Linked DNA regions of Homo sapiens. The protein of the gene in region 2 purifies or fractionates together with the protein of the main gene of each other region. This does not show direct contact. Each region holds a gene or a part of one and is shown on either strand. Other genes may lie near its edges.

The links. Proteins that work in one complex are often made in the same cells at the same time.
Region 1: the proteins of MTCH1 (region 2) and ZYG11B purify together in Homo sapiens (affinity purification with mass spectrometry; one large-scale study listed by BioGRID and IntAct). This does not show direct contact.

What each region holds. Positions count from the first base shown.
Region 1 is NC_000001.11:52,767,922-52,771,575, reverse strand, and holds part of ZYG11B (protein zyg-11 homolog B), read right to left. Parts: intron 557-3,654; coding exon 1-556. UniProt on the Homo sapiens protein: Serves as substrate adapter subunit in the E3 ubiquitin ligase complex ZYG11B-CUL2-Elongin BC. Acts to target substrates bearing N-terminal degrons for proteasomal degradation with the first four residues of substrates being the key recognition elements.
Region 2 is NC_000006.12:36,972,675-36,976,328, forward strand, and holds part of MTCH1 (mitochondrial carrier homolog 1), read right to left. Parts: intron 3,044-3,654; coding exon 2,984-3,043; intron 123-2,983; coding exon 1-122.

The DNA.
Region 1 (3,654 bases), on a different chromosome or scaffold from region 2:
GTAAACTGTTTATCATCTGAGATATCAAGATGATTCAGATGTTTGAGTTCCCGAACTACATCCAGTATCTGGGTAGTTGTCATTTTTAAACATTTCAAGTGGTGCATGGTTAGAGACTTGAGTCGGTCTTTGCAGGCCAGTAGAGCAGTGATGTCTGTGATTGAGGTGTTAGAAATATCCAAGCTCTCTAATCTTGGCAATGAGGCAACTTCAGCCAGGTCTTCATTGTAAAAGAGAACATTCGTGATGCTTAAAGCTCGAAGGCCAGAAAGCCGGCTGAAGCAGCGCTCGTAAGGATCCTCGAGGGAGAGAGTTAATGAATTCAGCACCAGGCACTGGAGATTCTGCTGGATCCATTTGTTACTGCCAAGCCCACTGATAATGTCTGTAATCGTGATATCAGCATTCACACCTGTGGCATCAAGTTCCACTAACTTGTGGTGGCAGAAAGCTTTCCGGAAAGCAACAGCAGAGATCTTTGCTTTGCGAATGCAGGCTCGCTTTAAGCGCATCTGGTTGCCCCTAAAAATACCCACAGTTCCATCATTCAATAGACCTGTGGAAAAACAAGCAGCGTTTTAAATTCAAAAAACAGTTAAAGAATAGCCAAAATTTCCATCACACTTTACATTTCCAAAGCGCTCCCATGTAACAGTATCTCGTCTGATAATCACAATTCATTTAGGTGAGATTATTATTGTTTACAACTTGTAGATGAGTAAACTGGGGCTCAGAGAGTGGCTTTCCAAGATCACAGGGCTAGCAAGTGGCAGAATCAGGACTGTGGCAGACATTATTGATATCCACTAACATCTAGTTCTTACCTTACCAGACAACTACATTTCCCAGCCCATCCCTGGAGTTAGCTGGAGCCATGTGCCTAGTTCTGGCCAATGCACTATATGTTGAAGCACCTGAGAGCCAGTGCATGATTTTCCATGCTGTCTTTTCCTGCTATGACAAACGAGGAGACTTCACGTTCTAGAGAGTATAGTTATATGAGGAGAAACCCTCCATCAGTTTGGACCCTAGGGTGACCATGAAGCAGAATCCTCTATGGACTTGCAGAGTTTATGTACCACAAGTGAGGTATAAACCTTGTGTTAAGGTATTTGATTTGTTACCAATACATTTCTAGCCTATCCTTTAAATTCACCTTAACATATTATTATACAAACACATATACACATAATATATTTAGCATGCACTTAATGCCTTGTAATTCATTAATAAACCACTAGCCAGATCTCAAACCTTATTAAAGCGATCTAGGCCTGGGAAACATAGCAAGACCCCATCTCTGCAAAATAACTGAAAACGAGTTGGGCACAGTGGTCATGCCTATAGTCCTAGCTACTAGGGAGGCTGAGATGGAAGGATCATTTGAGCCCAGGAGTTTGTGGTTATAGTGAATTATGATTGCACCATTGCACACCAGCCTGGGTGACAGAGTGAGAACCTGTCTCTGAAAAAAAAAAAAAAATATATATATATATATATATAGTAGTTACAGCTTCCCCCCACACTCCCCCTCCTGCAGATGAATGTAAATGAAGTCGACACAGTAACCTCTTGAAGTGCCTTCGAGATCTACCTGTCTACCAATCAACAGTGTCACAAGCATATGATACTCTGGAGGCACATCAACATATCACATATCAACTAAACAACATTGACTGTGAAAGAAGTAACAATCATGCCAAAAACAGGTAGTCTAAGAATAGTATGGGGTGAATGAGCAGTTGAGGACAGGTAAATAAATAGCCTGAAGTCATGAGAGGAACTCTAAGGCGGCATCTTAGCTGGCCCATACTCAAAATGCAGCTAGGCTGCCAGCCAGTCACCCTTAAATTAGAAATGAGGTGTTTTTAAAAGGGAGCACTATTCTCTAATGAGTTTTGCAGACTTAATTACAGTTACACAGTTAAAATCAAGAAAGGCCTGTGCAAAACCTGCCAAAGTGGACAAAAATGACTAATTACATATTAAGAACTCCATTACATTTTAGAGCTGTGCTGCCCAATACATAGTCACTAGCTCCACACAGCTGGAGAGCACTTGGAAAGCAGGTGGTACAAAGTGAGGTCAGCTATAAAGTACAAAATATACACCAGATTGTGAAGACTTAATACAACAAAATAATGTAAAGTATCTCAATTTTTTATATATACTACAGGTTGAAATGATCATTTTTTAATATATTGGGTTAAATAAAAATTATTAAAACTCGTTGCACTTGTTTTTCTTTTTATTTTTTTATGTGGCCACCGGTAAATTTAAAATTACATTTCGATTAAACAATGTAGTTCTAGAGACAGCCTTTCAAATTACCTGCACTCTATTTCAGGAGAGTAAATTTCATGATGGGGTCCATTCAGCAAACAGTTTATTAAACAATTACTATATGTCAAGTACTCTAAATGTTGTAGATACAAAGAAAAATAAGATATGCCCCTATAGTCAAAGGATTCATAATCCCATGGAGTAAAAAAGACACAAACAGCCATAACAAAATGAGATATATGGTATATCAATGTCAAGTATAAAGTATCACAAAAACAAAGAAAAGGAAGTAAACCATCATGAATGAAGATCTGGAAAAGATTTGATGGGAGAGGTGATCTTTGAGTAAGGCCTTTGAAAATGCTGGAAGAATTCAAAGATAGAGAAAGGAGGTTAGTAGGCCAGGTGCAGTGGCTCATGCCTATAATGCCAGCATTTTGGGAGGCCGAGGCGGATGGATCACCTGAGGCCAGGAATTCGAGACCAGCCTGGCCAACGTGGCAAAACCGCGTTTCTACTAAAAATGCAAAAATTAAATGGGTGTGGTGGTGCGCGCCTGTAATACCAGCTACTTGGGAGGTTGAGGCAGAGAATCACTCGAACTTGGGAGGCGGAGGCTGCAGTGAGCCGAGATGGCGCCACTGCACTCCAGCCTGGGCGTCAGAGCAAGACTCCATTTCAAAAAAAAAAAAAAAAGAGGAAGAAGGTTAGGTATATTAAAGCAAGAATATACAACATAAGCAAAGTCTTAAAGATGTGAAAGCATATCACGGGGTTAGGAAATGGCAAGTAGTTCTTTCTATATTGCTTGAACATAAGAAATAGCTAGAGCCATAGATGCAGTGCATTTCTGGGGATATAAGCATGCAAATGGGACAGAAGAAATGAGGCTGAAGGTGAGCTGGAGCTAGATCACTCTGAAAGGTGAAGAGATGAAAGCAGATCAGCTAGGGGGGACCTTGGGACCCATGGAACAACGCAGAAAAGTTCCTGGTTTTTTTCTGGTCATATATCCCAGATCTAAAGTTGAAGGAGCCAGCAGCCTGGAAACACCAATGGGCACAGACAAAAACCTCCCCCAAAATCTGCTCTCTCTAGCCAACGTACCAGGAAAGCAGCAACTAGTAAGACAGGAAACAGCTAGTAGACAGTAACTGCTCTACTTCAGCCAAACACGACAGAAAAAACTGCAGCTCCACCCATGCCAGCAAATGCCAATAGGGGCCTAGATTTCTACCCCTGCCAGGCTGTAATTACTTGCCCCAATCTGCCCACAGGGGAGGTGTTAGAGAAGTCTGAGTAGAGAGCAAGGACTTTCATTCCTGCTGGGTAGTAAGAACTATCCCCCACCACGATGTTAGTAGATACCTT
Region 2 (3,654 bases):
TTCCCAGCCCCCCTGGGGTGTCACTCACGCTGTCATCCACCAGGTAGGCATTGATGAAGTGGGCCAGCAGGTTACAGCCCCACAAGAAAACCACATCGCCCAGGAGGTGAGGGATTAATCCACTAAAAAACAAGGTAAGCAGAGATGAGCAGGAGAGGGAGAGGAGCAGTTCCTGGGGGCTCCACACCCAGGAAGCAGGCAGGGATGTTCCGAGCTCAAAATCTTAGCATATCCAATGGCACAGCCTTAGAAAGGAGGCCTGCAGGGTCCAGCAGCTATGCACACTGGGAAGATAGTGCTCCTTTTCCCATGGGGAGGTGTTCTATGCCGCTTTGGATGCCATAAATTAGCTAATAGTCTCAAGCAGTTTTCAAACCACAGAAGCCAGGGATCAAGATGTGAATACTGCCAAATTTGGAATTTCCAAATGCAGATAATAAGAGTGCCGACGTGTTGGTAATTTTCTCCTGGCCTCTTTACCTAACCAACTCTCAGAAGACACACTGCTCAATGCATCTGTTCTCTTTGCCCCTGAAAATATTCTATCAAAAAGATTCTATGCAAGCATTTACAAGGAGGGCTAACTTTTTAAGTGATGGCCTTTAGGATAAACAGCTCTATAAACTGCTAAGGAAGGTTCCCCAAGATGCAGTGCTGAGGGCAAAAGGCCAGTTTGAGGTCAGTGAGTCCCATGTGCCTCTTGTGTTTTTTACAATGTGTTTGCTTGTTTAGGTACAGAGTGCCCTGGGAGGCTCGCCAGGAGAAGGATGGCTGTCTCCTGGGAGGAGAAGCAGAATTTTTGTTTTTGAATTAAAAAAAAAAATCTTATATTTGAAAAACTCAAAAGAATATATGTAATACATCTATGAAGAGTATTAATAAAAGGAACCTCTGTGAATGCAATTTCTAATCTTGTCGTCCCTGCCTGTGCTCAGATTGACTTTGTGCTATACCCTTTGGTGCTTTCTATGCACTGTAACATGTATGAGTATCACCTGTTCCAAAATCACATGGGGAGAAAGAACCCAAAGAGTAGGCATCTGTTGTGCGGGAATCCTATTCAAACACCAGAAGAGAACTACGCAGTGTGAAAAATGCCAGAGGTGGTCATGTGCAGTGTTTCAAGATGGGTGGCTGTTTCTGTAGAGCAGCCATTGGCTGGGGTCCCGGGGCTGCCCCTTTGGCAGGGCACATGGTCCCTGAGGGCCACAGATGCCCTGCACTTTGTCACCTCACATCCAACTTACTTCACCTCTAAAGAAAGCACATACTGAAAAGACTATGTTCAGAAAGAATAAAGCACAGACAGAACCCAGAAGCCAGGCTTGATGAGTTGTTTTTTGACTTGCTGTTTTAAGGTCTAGGCGGTGACATACATGCTGATAGGTATGTCACAAATGTTGGTTTGTTACCAGGTACATGTGCAAATATATGTATGTATAAATACTTACACATACATATATGTGTGTGTGTGAATATAAATCAGAGTTTCTCAACCTTGGCACTATTGACATTTTGGGCTGAATAATTTTTTTTTTCCCCAAGAGACAGGGTCTCACTCTATCACCCAGGCTGGAGTGCAGTGGTGCAATCATAGCTCACTGCAGTCTCCAACTCCTGGGCTCAAGCCATCCTCCCACCTCAGCCTCCCGGGTAGCTAGGACTACAGGTGCATGCCGCCACGGCCAACTAATTTTTAAAAACATTTTTGTAGAGACAGAAGTCTCACTATGTTGCTCAGGCTGGTCTTGAACTCCTGGCCTCAAGTAATCCTCCCGCCTTGGTCTCCTGACAGCTGCAGAAACCACTGAGACTAATCCCAACTAACTGGGATCACAGATGCAAGCAACGACACCTGACTGAATAAGTCTTTGTTGCGGGGCTGTCCTGTGTACTGTAGGATGTTTAGCAGCGTCTCTGGCCTCTACCCACTAGATGCCAGTTGTGACAACCACAAGATGTCTCCGGACACTGCCGATGTTCCCCGGGGAGCAAAATCACCTCCTGCTGAGAACCGTATATATATTTCTATATCATATACACACACATGCACCTACAAGTAGTCACTAATTGGTTAAACAAGGGGCCATAAATAAAAAACATCTCACAAACCGGAAAACCATGATATAAAGACTTCTTATGAATAATATGGAGCCCTGTATCTAGTACAGCGGATACTGTTGTATACCATGTGTCTACCACGTTTGTGACATACTTATCAGCATGTATGTCACTGCCTAGACCTTAAAACGGCAAATCAAAATACAACTCATCAAGCCTGGCTTCTGTCTGCACCTTATTCTTTCTGAACTTAGTCTTTTCAGTATGTGCTTTCTTTAGAGGTGAAGTACACTGGATGTGACGTGACGAAGTACAGGGTGTCTGCGGCCCTCGGAGACCATGTGCCCTGCCAAAGAAGCAGGTCCTGGGTCCTGGCCGATGGATGCTCTACAGAAAGAACCGCTCAGCAGGACAAGATTTTCTGGCTTTTCAAGAGATGCCAGACATGTGGATTTTTGTGCAACATATCTTAAATGTTAACGGCAACAACTAATTTGTCAGAAAAGCAATGTCAAACAGAATCCACTGGCTGTGGTCAGCCTGTGAGCTTCCAGAGCTCCACCCTCAGTCCAAGTCAGATTTTCAGTCATGTTTTAGCAGTGAGGCCAAGGACTATGCAGTGACTTAGCTCATGAAGACCAGCCCCACACCCACCACAACTGGATGAGGCCCAGTGGGGCTGGTCAGTTCATCTCCCCCATGTACTAGACACACAGTTCCACTTTTACATGAGCCATGGCCTGAAAAGGGCTAAGCAGCTTGGACACGCTATGGAGCTCTGGAGAGCTGGCTGCAGCACTCAGGCTAGGGCAGGGCCATGTAGTGAAGTCCCAGGCCAGCAGCTGCGGTCTGAGAGGTTGAGGACACACCTGTTAGCAGAGCCATGCCCGTGGCCAGTTATGGGGTGTATAAACTCACGTACACGAAGAATCCCAGCAGCCCTTCCTCTTTGAAAATCTTCCCAATGGAGCTCAGCACACCACTGTGAAGAAGGCAAGACAGAGATACAGGGTCATGCAGTCACCTACCAGAAGCCCACCCGTTGGTGTGGGGCTGAGCCCACCAGTTCTGCTCAAATCCAGCCAGTCCTGGCAGGGATGGGGAGGACTATTACCATGAAGAACCAAGTAGAAAGGCAAAGAGCGCTTGTTCAGGGTGAGGAGGAGTTTACACAGTTCATGGAGACTGGGGAAGCCCAACCACCCATGGGAGCAGCCCACTAGCAGTCCTCTACTGGTGTTTTCTGGGAGATAGGAGTTTAGGAATGCATCTCCTAACTTGGGCCACTGCTGCAGAGGCGGCAGGCCCTTCTCTTACCCGGCCCTCACACTTATCTCTGGTTAAACAACCCTCTAGCAGAGGAGCCCACAGGCCCGCCCAAGAGTAAGAGTAGGAGGGGGTAGTAAGCAAAGAGAAGTACTTTCCCAGAGGGCAGAGAAAGAATACAGGGCCCTGCAGGAGGAGGCACTGGAACCAGCCTAGGAGAAGACATCTGGCACTCCTCAGCAGGGAGCCGGGGACTCATGCCCTGGCCACTGCACCCTGTTAGAGATGAGAGGACAAGCTGGATGAGAGGACAGGCTGTGGGTTCTT